Homo sapiens: one gene and its partners. The protein of the gene in region 1 interacts with the protein of each later gene in a pairwise test. Each region holds a gene or a part of one and is shown in the gene's direction. Other genes may lie near its edges.

Evidence for each region. The genes of interacting proteins can lie anywhere in the genome.
Region 2: the proteins of RAB5C (region 1) and TBC1D17 interact in a two-hybrid assay, tested with the Homo sapiens proteins (one study listed by BioGRID).
Region 3: the proteins of RAB5C (region 1) and APPL2 interact in binary tests that used the Homo sapiens proteins (3 or more experiments, as listed by UniProt).

The regions. Positions count from the first base shown.
Region 1 is NC_000017.11:42,151,821-42,159,119, reverse strand, and holds the start of RAB5C (ras-related protein Rab-5C), read left to right. Parts: upstream 1-4,130; 5' UTR 4,131-4,227; intron 4,228-4,410; exon of another isoform or gene 4,411-4,720; intron 4,721-7,299. UniProt on the Homo sapiens protein: The small GTPases Rab are key regulators of intracellular membrane trafficking, from the formation of transport vesicles to their fusion with membranes.
Region 2 is NC_000019.10:49,873,275-49,880,719, forward strand, and holds the start of TBC1D17 (TBC1 domain family member 17), read left to right. Parts: upstream 1-4,427; 5' UTR 4,428-4,449; coding exon 4,450-4,470; intron 4,471-4,868; coding exon 4,869-4,967; exon of another isoform or gene 4,968-5,082; intron 5,083-5,223; coding exon 5,224-5,298; intron 5,299-7,004; coding exon 7,005-7,128; intron 7,129-7,445. Other genes in the region: AKT1S1 (proline-rich AKT1 substrate 1), read right to left, coding at 1-28, 3,329-3,381. UniProt on the Homo sapiens protein: Probable RAB GTPase-activating protein that inhibits RAB8A/B function. Reduces Rab8 recruitment to tubules emanating from the endocytic recycling compartment (ERC) and inhibits Rab8-mediated endocytic trafficking, such as that of transferrin receptor (TfR).
Region 3 is NC_000012.12:105,233,157-105,241,381, reverse strand, and holds the start of APPL2 (DCC-interacting protein 13-beta), read left to right. Parts: upstream 1-5,207; 5' UTR 5,208-5,369; coding exon 5,370-5,423; exon of another isoform or gene 5,424-8,225. UniProt on the Homo sapiens protein: Multifunctional adapter protein that binds to various membrane receptors, nuclear factors and signaling proteins to regulate many processes, such as cell proliferation, immune response, endosomal trafficking and cell metabolism.

The DNA.
Region 1 (7,299 bases):
GGAGGCGGAGGTTGCAGTGAGCCAAGATCGCACCACTGCACTCCAGCCTGGGCGACAGTGAGACTCTGTCTCAAAATAAAAAAAAGAGACAGGTTATATAGGAATACAGATATTCCAATTTCTCTACAAAATGTAGCACTGGGCACAGTGGTTCATGCCTATAATCCCAGCCCTTTGGGAGGCCGAGGTGGGAGGATCGCTTGAGTCCATGAGTTTGAGATCCACCTGAGCAACATAGCGAGACCCTATCTCTATAAAAAAAATATATATATATATATTTTTTTATAGACGGAGTCTCACTCTGTCACCCAGGCTGGAATGCAGTGGTGCAATCTCAGCTCACTACAAGCTCCGCCTCCTGGGTTCATGCCATTCTCCTGCCTCAGGCTCCCAAGTAGCTGGGACTACAGGCGCCCGCCACCACACCCGGCTAATTTTTTGTATTTTTAGTGGAGACAGGGTTTCACCATGTTAGCCAGGATGGTCTCAATCTCCTGACCTCCTGATCCGCCTGCCTCGTCCTCCCAAAGTGCTGGGATTACAAGTGTCAGCCACCGCACCCAGCCTATAAAAATATTTTTTTTTTTTTGAGACGGAGTCTCACTCTGTCGCCCAGGCTGGAGTGCAGTGGTGCAATCTCGGCTCACTGCAAACTCCGCCTCCCGGGTTCACGCCATTCTCCTGCCTCAGCCTCCCGAGTAGCTGGGACTACCGGCGCCTGCCACCACGCCCAGCTAATTTTTTTGTATCTTTAGTAGAGACGGGGTTTCACCATGTTAGCCAGGATGGTCTCGATCTCCTGACCTCATGATCCACCTGCCTCGGCCTCCCAAAGTGCTGGGATTATTTTGAAAAATATTTTTCAAAATATTTTTCAAATTAGCCAGGTGTAGGCTGGGCATGGTGGCTCACGCCTGTAATCCCAGCACTTTGGGAGGCCGAGGCAGGTGGATTACCTGAGGTCTGGAGTTCGAGACCAGCCTGACCAACATGGAGAAACCCCATCTCTACTAAAAATACAAACATTAGCTGGGATGGTGGTGCATGCCTGTAATCCCAGCTTCGCGGGAGGCTGAGGCAGGAGAATCGCTTGAACCTGGGAGGTGGAGGGTGCAGTGAGCCGAGATCGTGCCATTGCTCTCAAGTCTGGGCAATAAGAGTGAAACTCCACCTCAAAAATAAATAAATAAATAAATAAAAATTAGCCAGGTGTAGTGGTGAGTGCCTGTGGTTCCAGCTACTCCAGAAGCTGAGGTGGAAGGATGACTTGAATCCAGGAGTTCAAGACCAGCCTGGGCAACATAGCAAGACACCCCCCCCACCCATCTCTATACAAATTAAAAAATTAGCCAGGTGTAGTGGTGTGTGCCTGTGGTCCCAGCTACTCTGGAAGCTGAGGTGGGAGGATCTCTTGAGCCCAGGAGGTTGAGGCTGCAGTGAGCAGTGATCACACCACTGCACTCCAGCCTGGGTGACAGAGTGAGACCCTGCTCAAACAAAACAAAACAAAAAAAACCTCAGGACATCAGGCTACCGTGGGCCAACATTCCATCTGGCAATAACTGGCAATCAGCTGGGCTGGGTGGCCACTGTCCTCTTTAGATGGGATCTGCTCTGCACTCTACTTCGCAGTCACCACGTTTCTTGATCATCTCCCGACACCCAGCTAGCTTCCCTTGTTTGAAATTTTTGTTTGGTCTCTGTGGGTATTTGAGTTCTCAAAACTTGAGTGTCCATCAGAACTACCTGAGATCCTATTAAAACGCAGATTCTGCCAGGCGCGGAGGCTCAAAAAAATAAAAAAATAAAAAGCAGATTCCTGGGCCTCATCCAATTTGGAATGTCCGGGGTGGAGCCCAGGGGTTGAGTTTGCAACCTCTGCCTTACCTAACAGTGTGTTCCCAGGTCCCTGTGCCCAACAGGTGCTTTTTGGGCCCAGTAATGTCTGCTTCTACTCCTAGGCGTGGGTCTGTCAACATCTCTGTTTCTGTCTCTCTGCAGGCTGTCTCTCAAGGTGGTCTCTTCTGCTGCTAGCAACTCAAAAATCCCAACAGCACTCCCTATCCTTTCCCTGACCCCAGACCGCTGCCAAGCCTGTTCTCCCCCATTACAACATGGTCTCACTCAGGGCCTGGACTGCTCCAAAACTCGCCCAGGTCTCCAGCTCTCCTCTACCACCCAACACCCTGGGCTCACTTTTGGATAGGAAATAAACTCTTTATTTTTGTAGTTATTGGCTCTGGGTGTTTCTGGGGGTTACTCTGAGAGCCCCAGGGCTTTGGAGGAGCCAACACAGCAATCACTCCCCACCCTCACCTTCGTTGTACCCCAGGGCCCAGTTGCTATCTCTAGGAAGGGCAGAGGCACCAGCCAATCTACTTGGCACCACATTCACACCACCAGGGGCCCCAGGGTTGAGGAAGAAACTTAATTAGTCACTATGGGCCTATTATACCCCCTTCTCTCCCCTGCACCCCAGTCACAGCCATGTATGCACACAGTATGTGGGAAGGACAGAGTCCTGGCTTTGGCCCACCTCCAGCCTTGGAAAGGTGGGCCTAGGGGACTACCCATCCCTCCTGTATAAGGAACTGTTCCAGAACTGGGTATGGCAAGGGGGCTGGGGGAAGAGCTTGTCACCAGCCAGAACCTGCTAGGAATCCCACTCTGCCCCATCCCCTCTGTCCTCCCAACAAGCCCTCTCTTCCCTCTTCCTTTTCACTTCTCATGAACACTGGCGCGGAAGTGGGGATTGTGTGTTATGGGTGTAAGAAAGAGAGACGCCCTGATGACCAGATGGAACTAGATGTGGGCACAGTTTTGTGGCAGGTTGTCCAAGACAGGTAAATTCTCCAGCTGAGGCTCCAGGATATGCCTGGTGTTGGCGTTATAGGCACAATGGCCACAGCTGTCTCCGGTGAGCTTTGATTCCACACAGGTTTTCAGTAGTGTCCCTTGAGGATGAGATGCAAAAGAAGAGGAGGTACTGGTTTGTGTTGAGAGGTAAGGGTGGGAGGAATCAGGAGCGGGCCCAGTCCATATTGAGAGGAGCAGAAAAAACAAATATTCCTGATCCATAGAGGGGGAGAGTGCAGAGTGGGGGTGGTTCTAGTCTTTATTTACGGATGGAGAGGGCCGAGGCAGAGGTTGTCCAGCTCTGTATTCCGCGTCAGAGAGAAGAGCTGACCCTGGCTAGGAGCAGGGGAAGGCAGAGGCAGAGATGGTCTTTGTGCCGGCCCCCGCACACACCAAGTAGGAGGTGGTGGCAGAAGCTCTCCCTTTGATCTCACCCAGCATCCTGCAGAGAACTCTTCCTGCAGCGCTTTCCTCACCTTCCCAATCACAGACGCCCCTGGCAATCGGGCGGACAGTGCAGACAAGGGCTTCTCCAGATCAGCGAGTTCACAGGACTGAGGCCTCGCGTGCATATTCATTCGCACCACGTTTTTTCTTTCCCAATTCTGCACACACAATCCTCTGCCTTCTTCCAACGCTCCACCACCCGCCTTCCCTCGGGGCGTCCGGAACCGGCGGTGACGCGGATGGCAGGGTTAGCCTTAAAAAGTTCCCGGCCGTAGGCTGGGCGCGGTGGCTCAGGCCTGTAATCTCAGCACTTTGAGAGGCCGAAGAGGGCGGATCACCTGAGGTCAGGAGTTCGAGACCAGCCTGGCCAACATGGCGAAACCCCCGTCTCTACTAAAAAATACAAAAATTAGTCGGGCGTGGTGGTGCGTGCCTATAATCCAGCTCCTCGGGAGGCTGAGGCAGGAGAATCGCTTGAACCCGGGAGGCAGAGGTTGCAGTGAGATCGCACCACTGCACTCCAGCCTGGGCGACAGAGTAAGACTCCGTCTCAAAAAAAAAAAAAAAGTTCCGGCCGGGCTCCGCCTCGCAGTCAGCCGGCTCCACCCTAAGCCCAAGTCCCAGGCAGCCACTGACTCCTCCCAGCGCTGCGAACTACAAGTCCCGCGATCCCTCGCGCGCTCCCTACCGCCACTCCCGCGTTCCTACCGGCGCCGCTGGGTAGGTCGGCCAAGAGTGCCTCCCATTGGTCTCCGCACTGTCAATCACCTGGGAGTATTGAGGGGCGGGGCGGAGGTGGAGATCCGGATCCGGAGCGGCTGAAAGGCGGAAGTGGAGGCCGGAGCCTGGGACACCGCCGGCGGGGAGAGAAGCGGATCCCGTCCGAGCCCCGGCCCCAAGTAACGCCGCCGCCCCGGAGCCGCCGTGAGTATGCTTGTCCCAGGACCTGGTGTCTCGCCTGCGTTGAAGCATCTCCAGGGCAGCCCTTCCTCCCGCCCAGCCCCAGTTTAGGGGGATACTGACCCCTCCCCCGACCCGTAGCCCCCTCTTGAGGGGCTCCCCAGGCGTCGGGCCATAGGAGGTGGGGAGCTTCTTTCCTTAGCTTACCTGCCTTTGGTGAGCCTTAAGGAAACCGCTATGACTGTCCTCTGGCCTGTCCATTCTAGTTGTGGGAGAGAGGTACCCTAAGTTCCGCTCCCCCTGCTTCCAGAATCGGAGGATCTTTGCTAGGTGTGAAGGAACCTGTCCCTCTTCTCTTTTAGAAGTGACAGGGAGTGCTGTCTGTCGCCGTTTTCCTTCCTCCTGTCCCACAAAACCAGTTGTCCCCTCTAGCCCTAGAGGAATATCTCGATTTCCTTTGGGGGAGGGGGGTCGTCTGGGTGAGACCGTTCCACACGCACAGAAGTGTGTGTGCGCTCCCGCAACTCCTTACTTCCTCTCTTTCCTCAAGCCAGAGAACCAACCAGGACCTCAGCTGAGTTTAAAGTCACTTACTAGAAATGAGCTGTTTTCCTGTTTTGCCCCTTCTGTCTCCCAGCCCTGTCCTCTAGTTATGTTGTTCTTTGAGTGTCTCTCTCTTTCTGCCTCTGAAGAATTTAGCTGAGGTTTGCTCAATCCTAGCTACAGATCACAGATCAGGGTGGATGTGCCCATTCATTATCTTCTTTCCCCTCCCCCCTTGCTCCAGGCTCAGCTCTGTCCTCCCAGAGCACGTGAGTGGTTTCCCAGCCGCCTCAAAGGGACTGCTTTTCTTGGGACTGCTGTCCGTGTGTCTATAGGGAGGAGAATAAGACCCAAAATGAGGAGTCTGGAATTGAAGGGCCATCTCTTTCCCACTCCCAAACACACACACATACACCTCCCTGAGCAACAGGTCCACACCACGCCAGGGTCTGTCTGCAATCCCTTCAGGGCTTGGACTTATTACTGAGGACTAAGTCAAGATCACAATGGCAGTTCTGGATTTTTAATTGTAGCCTGAGGAATTCCGATACATGCCAGAAAGTGCAGGTTCCCTCAACCATATTGACTGATCCTTGTCTGTTGCTTGGGGCTTAGGTGTGTGAAATAGCTGCTGTCTCAGACCAAGCTTTGTTATGTGGCCAAAGTACAGGCCGGAGACTGTACCTTAACGAGGAGTAGCCTGGCTCTGAGGCCATGACTGACCCTTGCTATCTACAGTGGAGGAAGGGACGGAAAGCCGTGCAGTTTGTGGGAACTTCTGTAGCTCTTCAGTGTTCTGGGCTACCTTTACCACCCTCGCTTGCCACTTAAAAGTGCTGTGTTTTTTGGCCTTGAGGTGTGTTTGAGGGCTTCTGGACAGTGGCTAGTATCTGATTCCTACAGTCTTTTGAGTAGAGCTAGGATGTACTTTCTTCACTTTTTTGTTTGTTTGTTTTTGAGATGGAGTCTTGCTCTGTCGCCCAGGCTGGAGTGCAGTGGCGTGATCTTGGCTCACTGCAACCTCTGCCTCCTGGGTTCAAGCAGTTCTCTTGCCTCAGCCTCCTGAGTAGCTGGGATTAACAGGCGCCTGCCACCACACCCGGCTAATTTTTGTATTTTTAGTAGAGATGGGGTTTCGCCATGTTGGCCGGGCTGGTCTCGAACTCCTGACTTCAGGTGATCCACCCGCCTCAGCCTCCCAAAGTGCTGAGATTACAGGTGTGAACCACCGTGCCCGGCCTACTTATTTCACTTTTTATCGGACAACAGAAGAAGCCTTCCTTATTAGGGTCAACAGCTGGATCACAGGCTCTGTATCTGTGTGGGTTCCTTTGGGGTTCATTGGAGACTTCTTCAACCAACCTAGTTTCTCTGATCTGGTCAGCCTGGGCATCTGAGGGGCAGGGCCAGAGAGGCCTGACTGCTCACTGGCCATTGGTCTCTGACCAGACTTAGGTCTTCAGGAGTAGACCGCAGTTTGTCACTCTTCAGGAGTGCTGGGATGAGGCCGACCAGCCTTCTGAGGAGACCTTCTTTTCTTTGTCTGGACATGCTCTCCCAGCTCTGACTCTGAAACGACTTTTTTTTTTTTTTTGGAGACAGAGCCTTGTTTTGTCACCCAGGCTGGAGTGCAGTGGCACAATCTTGGCTCACTGCAGCCTCTGCCTCCCGAGATCAAGGGATTCTCCTGCCTCAGCCTCCTGAGTAGCTGAGATTACAGCCATGCACCACCACGCCCAGCTAATTTTTGTATTTTTAGTAGAGATGGGGTCTCACCATGTTGGCCAGGCTGGTCTCGAACTCCTGACCTCAGATGATCCACCCACCTCAGCCTCCCAAAGTGCTAGGATTACAGGCATGAGCCACTGCACCCAACCTGAAACGACTTTGAAGGGGAAGCTCTGCCATTTAGAGAGACGAGGCAGGCCCCAGTGCTTTGGGTCGTTATGCAGCCACTTCTGGCACCTAGAAATTATAGAGTCCAAGCAGAGGTCTGACTCTGCCTGGCAGAGAGAGCGATGGCTCCGTGTGCGACAGAACCCCTCCTTTCTGATGCTGTTCCTCCCCTGCCCTCTTGCCTCTCACAATTAGAGGGCTGTTAAACTGTAGAGGGACAGTAACACTAATTTTTAAAAATCATTTTAAGGTTGCAAAATTATTTTCATACATATTCCTCATAGGTGCCTTGGGAAATAGTGGGGCTTGTTTCCCCACTTTGTTTTTAATTTTTATTATTACTTTTTTTTTTTTGAGTAAGATAAGGCAAGTGTCCCTGCTTTAGAAGGGATGCAGAAGGAACTTAAGTAGTTTGCCTAAGATCGATCATACATTTAGAAAGTAGTAGAGCTGGGGCTTGGATTTGGGGTCAGATGTGACCTGATCTAACAGTGGGCCCTTCTTCGGCCTGGTTTGTTCGTTAAATGAATGAACATGCAGACTGAGTGCGCCACGGCACAAGGGCAGACTCTTAACTCTTTAGCCCTCCTCATCACTAGCGCTCCTCTGTTTTTTTGTCTTCCCCAGCGTCTACCCGACCTCCTGTCTTCTCTCTTG
Region 2 (7,445 bases), on another chromosome or scaffold:
CTCGGGGCGCCCCGACGCCATCCGCGCCCTGCGGGCCAGAGCAGGACAGAGGGGGCTGAGGCTTGGCGGCCTACATCATCGCCACCCACTCAGAGTGCCCGCCCGTCCCCTGGATGGCACTCACCACCCTCCACCCACCTTGTCCCAGCGGTGCTGTGTGTCCTCCCCAAACCTGCTACTCCCCAGGATTCTCACCATCCAGTCCTCGCAGGCCCAGACCCTGGCGACGTCCTCTGCCCCAACCCATTCCTCCTGCCCCAAGTCACTGTACTCCTTCCCCTTTGGCCCTGCCCTGGCCTCTGTGGGAGCCGCCAGCCACATGTGAACAGGGAGTACTGGAAAGGCAGGGAGTCCTAGCAGAGAGTCCTAGCAGAGAGGCCTCTAACAATAAAACCTGCACTGGGTTCTGAAGACTGAGTACAATAAAGCCGAACGAGCCGGGCGTGGTGGCTCAGGCCTGCAACCCCAGCACTTTGGGAGGCCGAGGCAGGCGGATCACCGAGCCCAAGAGTTCGAAGCCAGCCTGGGCAAAAAAAAAAAAAAAAAGGAATTTCATCTGCTTTTTTTACTCTTTTAACATGGTGTCTAGAAAATTTAGAATTCCACGTGGGGCTTGTGTTGAATTTGATGGATGATGCCACCCTGCTCCGTCGCCCAGCCATCCCGTCAAGAGTGTCCTGCACAAGGCCCAGGGGGTTCCTTCAGCACCCGGAGCTGATGCTACTCCTCGCCATAGTCCTCAGGGCAGGCCCTGGAGGCTCTAGGTGTTCTGGCCATCCCCAGCTCCTGGGCCATCCTGCCTCCACGGCCTTCCAGAGCCTCTGAGGCCCGAGGCCTTCAGAAAACGTGGTCCCTGACCTTGATGACTTGTGCTCCATTCCCCACCAACCTTTCACTCATCCTAGGGTGGAAGAAACTTTCCCTCGCCCATAGATCCAGCCAGTCTGCTCCATAGGGGGTCCCACACTGTCTGAGTGGCCACCTTCCCAGCACACTTCCTTCCAGAGGGAACTGGCTGGTTCTATGACTGAGGCCTCAGAGAGTCGGGGCTGAAATGGTGCTGGCGCTGCTCTCTGTGCTGGGAAATCCACACGGCTTTTCCTACAAGACTGTTCTGGCAGGTCCTCTGTTGTCCCTGATCCCCCAGGGTGCATCAGATGACTTCAGGAGCCCATCCGATGCCCTGGGCTTCCTCCATGAGCATTCATGTCACCTGAGCTTGTGACAGCTGTAACCTGGCTGCCTCCTGCATCAGACTGTGAATTCCCCCAAGGTCAGGGATTTGTGTTTGCAGGACAGGTCGGCCCTAAGCAGACAATGCAGGGTGCGTCTCCTTACTGGGTGAGAAGAGCGAGGGCAGGGGGGCTGGGTCCTTGCCCTGACTCTGTCTCAAACCTGCTGTGTGACCTTAGATGGCTCACTGGCCCTCTCTGTGCCTCATTTTCTTCCCCATTAACCAGCGTGGTTGAGCCAGAGCTGCTGGGCTGCGGAAGACGCTCTTCCGGGAGGCAGTAAGCACACCGCCACTGCACGGATTCAGGCACAGCTGTGGTCCAGCCCACCAGGGTGAAGGGAGCAGGGAGTCTGGAGTCTGAATGAAATTTGCAGGCCTTTTATGACTCACGATCATTGATGTTGGTGTTTGCTGAGCACCTATTCAGTGCTGGGATTCCACACCTGGCATCTCACCTATCTGACTCACTCAGGGAGTTCAAAGCCCCAAGGGAAGGAAGAGGTTTATCCACCACCTCCCAGAAGCCACGCAAGGACCCAAGATGGGATCAACCTTCTCATCCCACCCTTTCACCTACACTATGAGACAGGAGCTTTAGTTACAGTTCACCCCATTTTACAGTTGCAAACTCAGGCCCAGGGGCAGTCAGCATCTTGAAGGGCCACAACTGGAAGAGGCAGGGCTGGGACCTGGACTCAGAAAGTCTAGATCCGGGGCCTGTTCTAAATCCTGACCGCCATCCTGCCTGCCTTTAGGAGGGCAGATATTCTAATCCAGATGGAAAAGTGAGGCTCAGAGAGCTTAGGACACTGGCAAAAAAGCACACAGCTACACAGGGCACAAGTGGGGCTGAAACTGTGAGGCTCAGAGAGCTTAGGACACTGGCAAAAAAGCACACAGCTACACAGGGCACAAGTGGGGCTGAAACTGCTGACTGCCCAGCCCCAAAACCCCACTGAACTGGGGGGTACCCGGTGTCTCAAACACACCCATGTCCTTCCCAGCTGATGAGGGAGGAAACTGAGGCTCTAAGCAAGAAATGGCTGGTCCAAAGTCAACTGCCTCGCCGTGCTAGGCCTGGGGCTCTCACTTCCACGGGCCTCCAGCCCCTAATGACATGCGGAGAAGAGGGGGAGAGGAGGTCCCGGAAGAGAACGTCAGGATGAACTCTCCGTGTACTCAATCTTGGAGTAGCCACGGGATTAAAGAGTGAAATAGGGTGAGTGAGTTGTGAGGGCTCCCCCAACTCAGGAGACATGAGCAAAAAGGACAGGGCGACTTCCACAGACCTCTTTGCCAAGGTCCAGGGGCACCCTGTAATGCTACCCAACAGGAGAGTAGCCAAGACCTGGGGGTCCTCCTTACCCTTCAGCTTCTAGAGGAGGTCCTGTTTCCTCCAAGGAGCTGAGAGATGGAGGAAGAACCCGCCCCGATAGACGAGTTTCGTGTAAGATCAGGGAGAGATTAGAGGAAAGTGAGACGTGTTCCCCACAGGAGGGGGAGCACGATGTGGCTGTCCTCTTTGGATGCAGGGAGGAGGGAAAAGAGCTAAGGAGGAGAGGGGTGGAACCACCCCTCCTGTCGAAATTTTAGTACCCCACACCCCAAGATGTGAGGAACCTGAGCATGAACGCGGTAGCCATGGGGTGAGCGCCTGGGGCCACGCTCAGCTGCCCCGAGACCTCCCAACCTCGCCCGGGGTCCAGGGAGGACCCACTGGTCTAGGAAGAAAACAGGAAATCCCGCCCAGACGGAGGCCAGGACCGGAAGTCCCGCCTTTGGACGGGTGAGGGGCGCCCCGAGGCCCCCCAAACCATCCCCCGACCCCGTGGACGTGGTCCACGGCCCAGGTAGAGATCCCAGGCGCTCTGGAACCGCAAGGTGAGACTGTCTACGATTTGCCTCAGGTCTGACAGGACGATTCCCACGGGCGACCCCCTTCCAGCGCTCAGCAAAGGATCGCTGGCAGACCTCTGCCCTCTGATCTGTGCAGGCCATACCCCTCCCGTGAGCCGCTCGCCCTCCCAGCGCCCCGCTGCCTCAGGACGGCCAAATCCTCCCCACACCGCGGTTAACAACGCCGCCTCCACTCACGTGCCCGTAGCCAGCATGGCCGGCCCGGCGCCGTCACCGCCCTCAAAAGACATGGCGGCGCCTTGCGTCACGTCCGCGCAGTTGCCCCGCCTCCTCTCCGCACACTCCGCCTCCCTTATCGGGGCCGCCCGAGATCAAGATGGCGGCCACAGGGGCTTCATCCGAACCAGTTGACAAGGGTGACGACAGCTTGCCCCTAAGAAAAATGGCCCCGCCTAGAGCATTTCCATTTGCCCCCAACAATAATGGCCGTCCTCATATGCTCAATCATGACCACAGTAAACGAAGGCAAGCGACCTGACGTCCCTGACCCACAATAAACTTCTTCGACAAAAGTAGAGGAAATCGGTGCTCGTTAACAACATGGCAGCCAACCGGGCTTAATCAGCCCATAGTGTATATTGGCTCTCCCTCCCTCCAACCTGCTCCCATTCGGCACGAAGGCTGGCAAAGATCCAACACGGCAGCATTTCTTGCTTCGGTTTGCCAGGCTTCAAAATGGCGGCTCAGCCCGCTTTCTCGCGACGGTGACTCAGAAATTCGTCCGGGGCCGCTTCGTTTCTGGGGGCACTGACGGCTTCATCCCGTTATCCTGAGTCCCTCAGTGCCTCTTGTGGTGTACAGCTCCTCTCACCTCCTCTTCTCTTATCCGTTCGGCTCTTCCAGCTGTCGCGCCCCGCAGAGAGATGGGACAGCCCCGTATTAACATGGCCTTAGCTGACCGGCTTAGGCCATGCCCTCGAGCAAAATGGTACCTCCTTGGCTTCAATTCCAGTATACAATATGGAGAAGGAAGTGGGCGTTTCAAGGCGTGCTTGCCCCAGGTGGTGCAGCTCTCAGACCCTCCCACTTGTTTACTTCGTGGCGAGAGGGCGAACACTGCGCCTGCGCACTCTCCGTAGCCGGATCCACCTTCAGCGTCTGCGCCACGTGACTCCGATCCACCCTCGAGGTTCCAGTGGAATAACCCCCTTCTGAAAAATGGTTTCACCCGCTCCTTCTCTAGAACGGGTCGGGCCGCTACCACTGTCCGGCCCGGAGGGGAACTGTTTTCTCCGGAAGTGACAACACGCTGACTAGGAAAAGGAGGAGGCGGGGCAGTGGGGCCTTCGGCGGCGACTATGGAAGGAGCCGGCTACAGGGTAAGCACTGAGGACGCATTCCCTCGCTTCAGTGTATGCGAAACGCCCCGTCTAGTGATCAGCTCTTCTCTCAGGCCTTGGCTCTCGAGAATCCGGCACGGCCTTGGCAAACACCGATCTCTTATAAACGCGCCGTCACCCTCCCGTCCACCGCCCCAGGGAAGAACCTCCCATGGCCCCGCCCCCCCGGCTCAGGCGACTCCTTGAGCCCTGCCCCCTGTGGAACGCACGTCAGCATCCGAACGCGGGCTGGACCATTCTCCCCGCCTTGGTCCCGGGGCAATGGCCCTCCCGGCCCCGCCCCCTGAGGGTGGCTCCTCCCTGGGCCCGTCCCTATTGGCTCCCCAGGCTGGTCCCCTCGCTTGGGCCCCAGCCCTCGCTGGTTCCCCCCAACTCAGGTGGTGTTTGAGAAGGGCGGAGTGTACCTGCACACCAGCGCTAAGAAGTATCAGGACCGAGACTCTCTCATCGCTGGTGTCATCCGTGTCGTGGAAAAGGTGCGCTGGGAGGGAGCAGGGCTCGGACCCGCTCCGAGCGGGATGCAGGCGGTCTGGGATGCAGGCGGCAGCTGTAGGAGTTTGGTCTGGCGGTCAGCAGTGGGACCTGAAGAAGGCTGGGTGTGGGAACTGGAATGAGGGGCGGGACTTTGAAAGGCTGAGGGTAGAAACTGGGAAAGTTTGGAAATTTGCAACGGAAAGTTTTGGGAATGTGGTTTGGGGAGCGCCTCTAACCCCGCCTCCCTCCTTACCCTAGGACAATGACGTCCTCCTGCACTGGGCTCCTGTAGAGGAGGCTGGAGATTCCACCCAAATCCTCTTCTCCAAGAAGGTAGGCTCCACCCGCTTTGCCCTTCTCCACTCGCTTTTTTTCTAGGTCCGTGCTGTTGTAAGTCATTTGAGGGACCTGCGTACAATCCCAGACCTACTCGTGGGGCATGTGTGACCCTGTTTAGGCTTGGGTACTCTGCCTCTCCTTTTGCTCCTCTCTGTGAAATGGGCAGAGGATGCCCATTCAAGGAAAAAGAGCAGGGAGCATAAGACGCACGGTCGTGGGGACGGCTGACCCCTCTCTCCCTTTGCTTCTTGGGAGATCCCTGCCAGGGTGCAAGATGTGGATTCGAGTTGCTTGAAGGGAAATGGCATTTCCTCTGGTGCCAGAGGACAGGGCCTGACAGCCTACTCACCCACTTCGTCACTGCTCCCGGCTTTCCCTTCGTTATGTCTCCTGGGACTTCCCATGGCTGGACCCCGTCCTGGGCAATTCTGAGACCCAGAGATAAGTCAGATCCAGACCCACCTAAGCCCTGACCCTTACTCACTTTTTGAGAAACTGATAGATGAGGTCGAAAACGCTAGGAAGTGTTGGAACTTTTTGCACCCAGACAGTCTGATTCCAGATCCCCAACGCTTCCTGGGAGAGCAGACATTTGAGCTGGGACTCCCAGGATATGAAAGGACAAGAAGGTATTTCAGGGACAGCAGAACAACCTTCAAGGCACACGGAGAAGTTGGATGCCTCTGTAGGGGGGTTCTTTAGTGGGGAATGAGACCTCCATTGGAGCTGATGAGTTCCACCCAGGGGCCGGAAGTCAGTCGGCACCCACAGAGCTAGTGACGAGACACTGGAAGGCTGAGCTGACCACCTGCGCTGCCCCAGGGCAGGAGGATGAAGATGAAGATGAAGATGACTCTCCACCTTGCTCCACAGCCAAACACAGCCAAGGCACCAGGAAGTTGCGTTACATCACTTCCGCTTTCCAGGTTGGCCTGCATCTGGTTGGTAGAATTTGTCCTGTGTCCTGGATTCCAGCTGCAAAGAAACCTGGGAAATGTAGTGTGTTTTTTTTGTTGTTGTTATTGTTTTTTTTTTTTTTTTTTGACAGTCTCACTGTCTCAAAAGAGTGCAAAGTGGTATCTTATTGTGGTTTTGGTTTGTATTTACCTGGTGAGTACAACAGTGTCCATTGAGCACTCCGCAGCCTGACTGCAGAGCCACCTGCTGTGTAGCATGGACCTCCCCATGCAGTGGGAGACATGGGGTCAAGTCCTGGCTCGCTCTCTGGCTGCATTGGGTGACCCTGAGCAAGTGCTGTACTTTCTTTTTTCTTTTTTTTTTTTTTTTTTTAATGAGACAGAATTTGCTCTTGTTGCCCAGGCTGGAGTGCAATGGCGCCATCTCAGCTCACTGCAACCTCCGCCTCCCAGGTTCAAGCGATTTTCCTTTCTCACCCTCCCGAGTAGCTGGGATTACAGGCATGCGCCACCATGCCTGGCTAATTTTTTTGTATTTTTTTAGTAGAAACGAGGTTTCTCCATATTGGTCAGGCTGGTCTCGAACTCCCGACCTCAGGTGATCCGCCCGCCTCAGCCTCCCAAAGTGCTGGGATTACAGGCGTGAGCCACCGCACCCGGCCTGCTGTACCTTCTTTGTGCCTCAGTTTCCCTCTTTATTCAATGGGGCTATCTTCCAGGGTAGCCTCGAGGCTAAGATCTGAATCCATGGCCCCTTACTGTCTGCTCCTTTCCTCTCCTAAGGACTCCAGTGGGGGTGACTCATGTGCTTCTGAGGAGGAACCAACCTTTGACCCCGGCTATGAACCTGACTGGGCTGTCATCAGCACTGTGCGGCCACAGCTCTGCCACTCAGAGCCCACGAGAGGTAGGCTGAGGTGGCGGCCCTTGAGAAGCACGTGTGGGCCAGGTAGGACACATCTTGCCCTCAGTGGTCACGGTCCCAAGGGCTTTGCTGCCCACAATCAAGAAGGCCACCAGTCACCACCTTCCAGTCCCAGGAGCATGGAAGTGAATGGGAAGACAGGACTGTCCCAGCCCAGGTCAACATGGCCAGTGTCTCTGAGACTGCAGCCTTGCTCATCCTACTGGGCTCCCGGATTGGCTGTGGGTGCTCCCACACCAGGCCTGCCCCTGAGGTTCGAGGCTGGTGGGGTGACAGATGCAGCCAGTTAGGGTGATTTG
Region 3 (8,225 bases), on another chromosome or scaffold:
AACGTTTATCAAATGAGGATACTAATACTTATGCCTCACCTTCCTGTGCTCCAAGATGACTATTTTATGCCATCTCCTCTCTCCTCAAACCTTCAATACCATCTGACCATTATTGCTTTGAGCCGATGGCCTTGCTTCTTATCTCACTGAGAAAAATAAAAGCAATCAGAATAGAACGCCTTCATTCCTCCCATTTAATCTACCAACCTACTGTTCTTGTATCACTATGAACGTACTGTCCTTGCTTCTATCTAAGGCCATCCCTATCCCTTGTGATTTGTTTTTTGCATTTTTTTTTAAAGAGTCTCACTCTGTCACCCAGGCTGGAGTGCAGTGGTGCAATCTTGGCTTACTGCAACCTCTGCCTCCTGGGTTCAAGCGATTATCTTGCCTCAGCCTCCTAAGTAGCTGGGACTACAGGTGCTCACACGCATGCTCGACTAATTTTTGTATTTTCAGGAGAGACAGGGTTTCACCATGGTGGTCTTGAACTCCTGGCCTCAAGTGATCGACTTGCCTCAGCCTCCCAAGCCTATCACTTGTGATTTGGATTCTACTCCTTTTTGTCTGTTCAAGGACTTTGTTCTTGCAATTGTCACCTCTCTCTCATATCTTTAGCTTTTCCCCCACTCTACTGGATCATTCTCATCAGCATATAAATAATCTAAGAAATCCAATCTCTTTCAGACTTTTATGTTTTCTTTAAGCCAGTTGGAGTTAGGTTTCTGTGATTTGCCACTTAAAAAGTCTTGACTAATACAGGACATAGAGACAGGTGTGTATGGAAACAACTTGTGATTGGTAATGCCATTCTCATATCATAGGGAAGTAAACTGAAGCTCAGAAAGATTAAATACCTTGCCTAAAGTCTACAACTTTTCTATTTTAAAACAAGCAAACAAACCAAAAACCTCCCTTTTTTTAAATCATCCCCTGCAGTCACTTCCCCTTCAACCACTTCCCTTTATTGAAAAACCTCTTGAAAGAATTGTCTTTGTATTCCCACCATTGCTCTTGAACAGACACCATCTTGCTTTCAAATAAAATTGCTCTTATCAAAGTCTCTTACCAAATTCACCGAATGACCTTCCTATTGGCAAATTTAAAGGTCAATTTCTGGTCTTTATTCTTACTTGATCTCTTAGCTGCATTTGACATTGTGGATCAATTCATTTTTGAAACCTTTTGTCCCCTGGCTTTTAGTATAGTAGTGCCTCCAAGTTTCCCATTCATAGGGCTTCTAGGGTGGTCTATTAGTCTCCTGATATTCCTCCTACACCATTAGCTGCTGGATCTTGCTTGGGCCTCAATCCACCAAGCTTTCCTCTTTCCTTTCTGTATTAGATTCCTAAGAAATCTCATCTACTCTTTTGGTTTAAATAACGTCCCCATGTTGGTGAACTCATGGATTTATACCTTCAGCCCCAGTCTCCTCCTAAACTTGAGTGGTATATACAAGTACCCACATGAAACCTCCACTTGATTGCCTAACGGGCATCTCAATCACAACAGCCTGAACAGCACTATTGATGCGCCACCACCAACAACCTGCTTCTCCCCAGGGTTTTCTGTCTCAGTAAATCACAGGACCATTTGCCCAATGGCTTTCCCACTTTCTCTCACATACTACATCCAGCATATCCTGTCAGTTCTACTTTCAAAATATGTTCAGACTTCAACTACCTCCCAACATTTCCATACCCTCGACTTTGACCTATATCTCTCAAATCTCTTGCTTGAAGGATTGCAAAAGCCTCTTCAGAACCCAGAGATAGTCTTTAAAAATGTAAATCAGACCCTGTCATTCAGTTGCTCATATTTACAGTGGCTTCCTGCCATATCAAGAGCAACACCCAAAGTCCTTCCCCATGGACTCAGCGTCCTCTGTGAGCCAGTGATTGGCATCTCTTCAACCTCATCTCCTCCCACTCTTTCCCGCCTCGCTGTCCTTAGCCACATTGGCCTTTCTGCTCCTCCTCAAAGAGGAGCAAGCCTCAGGGCCCTCACACTTGTTCTTTCCTTCGGGCTGGGCTTCCCTGATTCAATTCTCAGCTCAACAGTTGCACACCTCAAAGAATCCTTTCCACTTCCCATGATCCTCTATTCCTTTACTAAAGGTTATCATACACTTATCAACTTGTATTTGTTTCTTATTATTTCCTCCATTAGAATATAAACTCCATTAGGGCAAGGACTACTTTTTGCTTCAGCCTATATCCTCAGCTTCTAGAGAAGAGTCTAACACACAGTCGGTGCTACCTAGTGAATGATTAACGGCAAAAGCAGCATTGTGCTATCAAATGAAATGAGATTCATGAAAACATTTTTTAAACTCTGGAGTATCAATCATGTATAAGTTATAATAACACATTATAGTTTAGTAAGTATTTATCAAGCAACTGCTTTTGTGCTAGGTAATGTACTAGGCACTCTAATTACAGAAATAAATAAGACCAAGTTCCTACCCATTCTAGCTGGAAGGTTGGAGGTGGAAACAAAGAGAGGTAAGTGTTATTCTAGAATTATCTCGGCAAGTGCTACTGAAGCACACTCAAGGAAAGGAAAATGTATTCTGCTTGGGGGGACAGGAGTAAATGAAGACTTCATCAAAAAAGTCACATTAAACTGGGATTTGATGATTGTGGTTGGGTTTGTCAGACAAGAGGCAGGAGAAAGGGCTTGACTGGCAGAGGAAAGAATCTCAATGCGTGTGCCCTATCATGCAGTTTGCTAAGCATCTCCCAAAACAGCTGCCTTCTTCACTCCTGCCTTTCTCTCTTACTCCTGAAGCCCCAGGCCTTCTCTGACCTGGCCATCCTGGGTCCTTTTTTTGTGTCTCACTGTGTCCTTTTCCCCACTGGCCTTCAATGGGTCACAGGTTACACCTCCATATAATTCATCCTCTCTCTCTTCAGACATCACGACAACTCCAGACTGTCCATCTTTATACTTCCTGTCACCAACTTCACAGCTGACCAGGGATTTCAGAGACAGTGGGGTGGATTTCTAAAATCCACCTGCATAATAGTTTAATAGGAACAGATATATACTCTTTAATGAAACATTTTTAAATGTTCATGTTGACATAAAAATTCCTCTTATGTAGTTTCTCACAGATTATCAAAGGAGAGGATATTTGCCTTCAGAATTTAAATGAGAATCAAACAAGTGGGAGACAGTGCTTAACACTGAGCAGTCTATATTTAATACATGAATGAATGATTGGATGAATTAACAAATGAGATAAATTAAAACCATTTATGCATGTGTTGTATTTCCAGATCTACTTTTGTAACTTAGTTGTTTTGAATTTGGGATAGATTTTCCCATAGAAACAATGTTGTAAACAGTTCTTAAGTTCCAAGAAATCCCACTAAGGCTGTTTAGCCCATAATGTAGCAAGAAAATGCAGAAAAGTAATGGGATAGCTTAAACAATTTTTGAATGTTGAATACTAGTATTTGAAGAAAAGTAACTTTAATTAGAAGATGAGGTGGTACATGAAAAATGCTGTGATTCCCAAGGGGCTGTCTGAGCCCTTTCAAGGGTTCTGAGGGCACTAACTTCTTGTAATGCATATTTTCAAATTAAAATGTGCACATTTATTTCCCTGGGTATAATACTATCCTTGTACTGTTCTCGCAATCAGGATGAAGGAAGAGCATGAGTCTGGCCGTGAGGAATTAGATTTCAGTGAGAAGAGAGTCTGGGACACTGGATGAGGTAAAATGAACTGAATGGCAGGCGGTATAAAATAGAGGAAAGGGAAGAAATATGGTGTGAGCATGATTCCACCTATAGGGAAGACAAGAGTATGGTGGAGGCAAGAAAGAATAGGGAAGAAAGAATACTGTGGAGGAAAATATGGTAGATGGAGGCCATAAAATGGTTCAGGTCAGGTTGGCGCTGGCCAGACCAAGGGAATAATGGCCTTGGAGTTTTCAAGTGATCAGGCAGCATGCTACTATACTAGACTGTCAGAGGTGTCAGCAATGCAGATTGGGTCTTGATATACCTAAGAGGTCTCTGCAGAATGCAGAATTTATATATTACCATATCCCCTCTGTTGATTTTGGTGACACACATACTGCATGATTTTTTTTTTTTTTTTTGAGACGGAGTCTTGCTCTGTTGCCCAGGCTGGAGTGCAGTGGTGCCCTCTCGGCTCACTGAAACCTCTGCCTCCCGGGTTCAAGTGATTCTTCTGCCTCAGCCTCCCGAGTAGCTGGGATTACAGGCGCATGCCACCACGCCCGGCTAATTTTTGTATTTTTAGTAGAGACGGGGTTTCAGCATCTTGGCCAGACTGGTCTTGAACTCCTGACCTCGTGATCCACCCATCTCGGCCTCCCAAAGTGCTGGGATTACAGGCGTGAACCACCACGCCCGGCCAGTCTTATTAACTTCTAAAGAAGGAACTTCAGAAACCCTTGCCTTCCGTGTAAAAAGGTGTCACGTTCCACTTGCCAGTCTTCTTCCATCCCTCTCCCTTCCTTCTTTTCTTCCTCTGGCGTTTACTAACTGACCCTGGGCAGACCACTTATTTCTCTGGGTCCCATTTTCTCATCTCTAAATGACAACACTGGAACCTAGATTATCTAGCCCTTCCAATTCTAAACATTTGATTATGAAATTCTCCAAAATCACAAAACATAAACCAGGAGGACGAGACCTAATTATGACCACATCAAATAGCTGTGGTTTCCAAAGTGGTTATTTCTGATTATCACAGACGAGTCAGTTATCCAGCTTTTCTCCTCTTTTCTTTGTTCCCATAGCATAGGCGACCTCTTTGCTCTCAGAGCTGTTTCAGGGGCGTCGAAATTTATCTAGAAAAAGTGGTGTGGGAAGTGTGGGTTTTTCCTTCCATTAAAAGAAAAAATCTGTTCGCTCCTTCAACTCAAAAGGCTTTCTGGGTAGCCATAAGCAGATAAAACCTTATCTTTCTACCCTCGAGTTCCTCTTTTGGACTTCATATGCATTGACTTGACGGACCTTCAGCACAGAGAACAAACACCCGAAGGGTTCCCTCAGCAACGGGACTGGCACCCAGAGCCCCCCGCTCCCCGCGAGCCGGCGAGCGCAGGCGGAAGCGCGGGCGCCACATTTCCGGTGTCGGGACCGGAGCTCACCACACTTCCGGTTTCCCTGCCGGGCGCGCCACACTTCCTGTTGATCCGGCTCGGCCGGGGGCTGGGCCGGCGGGCAGGCGGCGGCGGCCACTGGCCAGGCGTGGACGCGCGCGGGGCCGCCGCGGGCACGGAGTGGCCGCCGCGTCGCCTGAGCCCAGAGCCGGGGAGTGCTCTCGGCCGCCGCGTCTCCTGCCCTCTGTCCTTCCAACCCAGCCCTCGGCTGAGCCGCGCCGCACCATGCCCGCCGTGGACAAGCTCCTGCTAGAGGAGGCGTTGCAGGACAGCCCCCAGGTACCTCCCGCCGCTCCGGTGCCCCTCGCCCGCAGGGGTGAGGCCGAGGAGGCCCCTCCAGCCCCGGAGTGGAGGCCGCGCCCCCGGCCGGGCAGCCGCGGGAGTGCGCCCGGCCCCCTCGCGGCGCCTCCCACCGGGTTCTCTCGGGCTGAGGAGGGGGCGGGCCGGGCCCTGAGTCCTGAGCCGGGGCAGAGCTGTGGAACAGGGGAGAGAGCCCCGCGGCCGGAGTCTTGATGTCGTGACCCCCCTGCAAGCTCAGCTGCAACTGAGTCTGCGAGATCTAAACTTTGATTCCATGTAGTAGCTGAGTGCCTCAGGAAAACCACCTTATTGTGCCTTAGTTTTGTCGTCTGTAAAATAGGAATAATAATTGTGCCTGCTTCATAGGGTTGTTAGGAGAAGTCAATGAGAAATACCTGTAAAGTTGTCAGCAGACAATGTCCGGTACAGATAATGAGTCAGTCTTATTACTGCTACTCCTAATGATGTGATGAGACTTGTGCCAGCCAGAATGAGAGGCAGAGGGCCTGGATCTCTTTTCCGGCGGTACCAGGCCTCCTTTTGGCACCGTTTTCCCATTAGTGAAGAGAAAAATACAGTACCTGCCCCATTTGTCGCACAAGGGAACTTCATTAGCACACTCGAGATGAGAGTCAAGTCCTTTGAGCTCTGCAGATGAAAACTGGTGTGTAAATATAGCAAATGAGTGCAGGATGACATTAGTTCATAATTCAGCACATCTTTCCCCAGGGGTCTTTTGTTCTCCTTTGTTTAACATTTCTCCAGCTTCGTACCTACACTCCTGGTTCAGCATCCCGGGTTTATTTAAATAAGTGCCTTTATTTCCTAGTGTCTCAACTCTTGAAAACTTAGAATAAGATTAACCTATTTTCGTTTCACACTTTCCCCTCTCTTTTGGGGTTCCTTCCCTTTTTCTTCTAAGTGAATAATACTTCCCAGGATGATCCTTGTATGGATTTACCTACATCGACAGTTCAGAATAAGTCCGAAGGGCTGTATGCATAGGTGTCTTTTGTTCATTTTTTGTGATCCTCCTAGTGTAGATAAGTAAGGAACTGGAAGCAAGCTGTGTGTGTGTTTTTTGTTTGTTTGTTTTGTTTTTTGGTAAGTTTGCATCCTCTGGACGACTTTTTCAAGGCCTCCCTTTTTTATATGGCTGTAGACTCCTGGCATTTTAATCAGACTAAAGCCCTTGGTAGAAGGCATTTTGTCCATGTTCATATCTGTTGTGTGGAATCTGAAGATAGCAATGTGAGATTTTAAATGATCACTTTGAACAAGGATCTCTGTTTGCCTTGCACTTATGGAAACTGAGGTGCACAGAAATATCCTGCTTTTCTAACCTACATGGTGATGCCTAAGCCAGGTTACAGTGATTATACTAACTGATTCTTGATGTTGTCCTCACAAACAGATCATATTCTTAATTTCCAGCTCTAACATAAAGGAATATACACTGTTTGTGAGTGGCTTAAAGGATTTGCCCAGCTGTGAGGAAGTAGACAGGACTGTAGAGCAAGTCAGGAGACCTGGGTTCTAATTCTGGCTCTCACGCTCACTTAGGATGTGATGTGGGTGAGTCTCTTCATCTCCACCCTGTAGCTGGCTCAGTTTCCTAATCTACAGAACATCTACAGAATGAGAGACAGGGAGGGAGCAGGTGATCTTCAAGGTGCTTTAGAGTTAACATTGTCATATCTACATGGTGTATAACTTTGAACTTGTATGTGGCAGAGGAGGTTTAGAGATATTATCATTCTTATTTAATATGTTCCTTTTAATATAGGAAGTTTATTTGTCATTGCTTTTGAGACTTGGCCATCACCCTTAAGAGGGCTCTTGATGGTGCTGTTGTGCAGAATGGAAGCTGACTTTAAGAAGGTCTTTAATGATCATCAGAGCATATTTATATACTACTCTCTTGTATGTGACCTGTGCCTAATGTAGCTTTACTCCCAAGGTGACTCCTAGACTTGGAACTGGAAGGAATCTAATCCATCCCCTTCATTTTATGTGCAAAGCATAAAAACAATAGCAAATGCCTGTTTCATGGATTTTATGTGCCAGGGACTCTTCTAAATGCTTTACATATATTAACTCACTCAATCCTCCCAATAGTCTTGAAGTACATTCTCTATTTAAATAACTAAGGAGCAGAGAAGTAATTTGCTTAGAATTATACACCATAAAGTGACAGAGCCAGGACTGGAACCCAGGCAACTTGCCTGTACTAGGGATATGGTTCAAGTTAGCCCAGCTATCTAGCACCGGGCTTTTCTGTCATCAGTGACCTAAAATGTTTCACTAAAAGGAAAAGATCCTAATAAACCATCTATTGTGTGTTTCTTCTAGTTTTATGAAGAGTAATTTTGAGAGTTGCTTCAGTAATGTGATTGCACAGGATGAATTAAATGAACACCAAAGCTTTTGTAATTGAACTGAGTGACCCAGGAAGAGCTGAATAGCAGTTAACTGACCTTAGACACATCTATTCATGGACTCCTTTTTAGTTTGCAGTGCTGCACGATGCATTGTAAAACTAGTCTGTGTGCATACACATGCGTTATTTCTGCTTACCTCTCATATGTGGGAAGCTGAACATTTTAGGGATTAAGAAATCTGCCTCCATTGTTGTTTAGAAGCCTCTGCTCCTTGCCTGGCACTACTGGCTGTTGGGAATGTGAAGATAAATAAGAGTGACTACCCTTGACTGGTTCACAGTTTGTTCCAGAGACAGATAATGAGGCAACAGTTCCAGTACAGTGTGAATCCTGCTGCGAT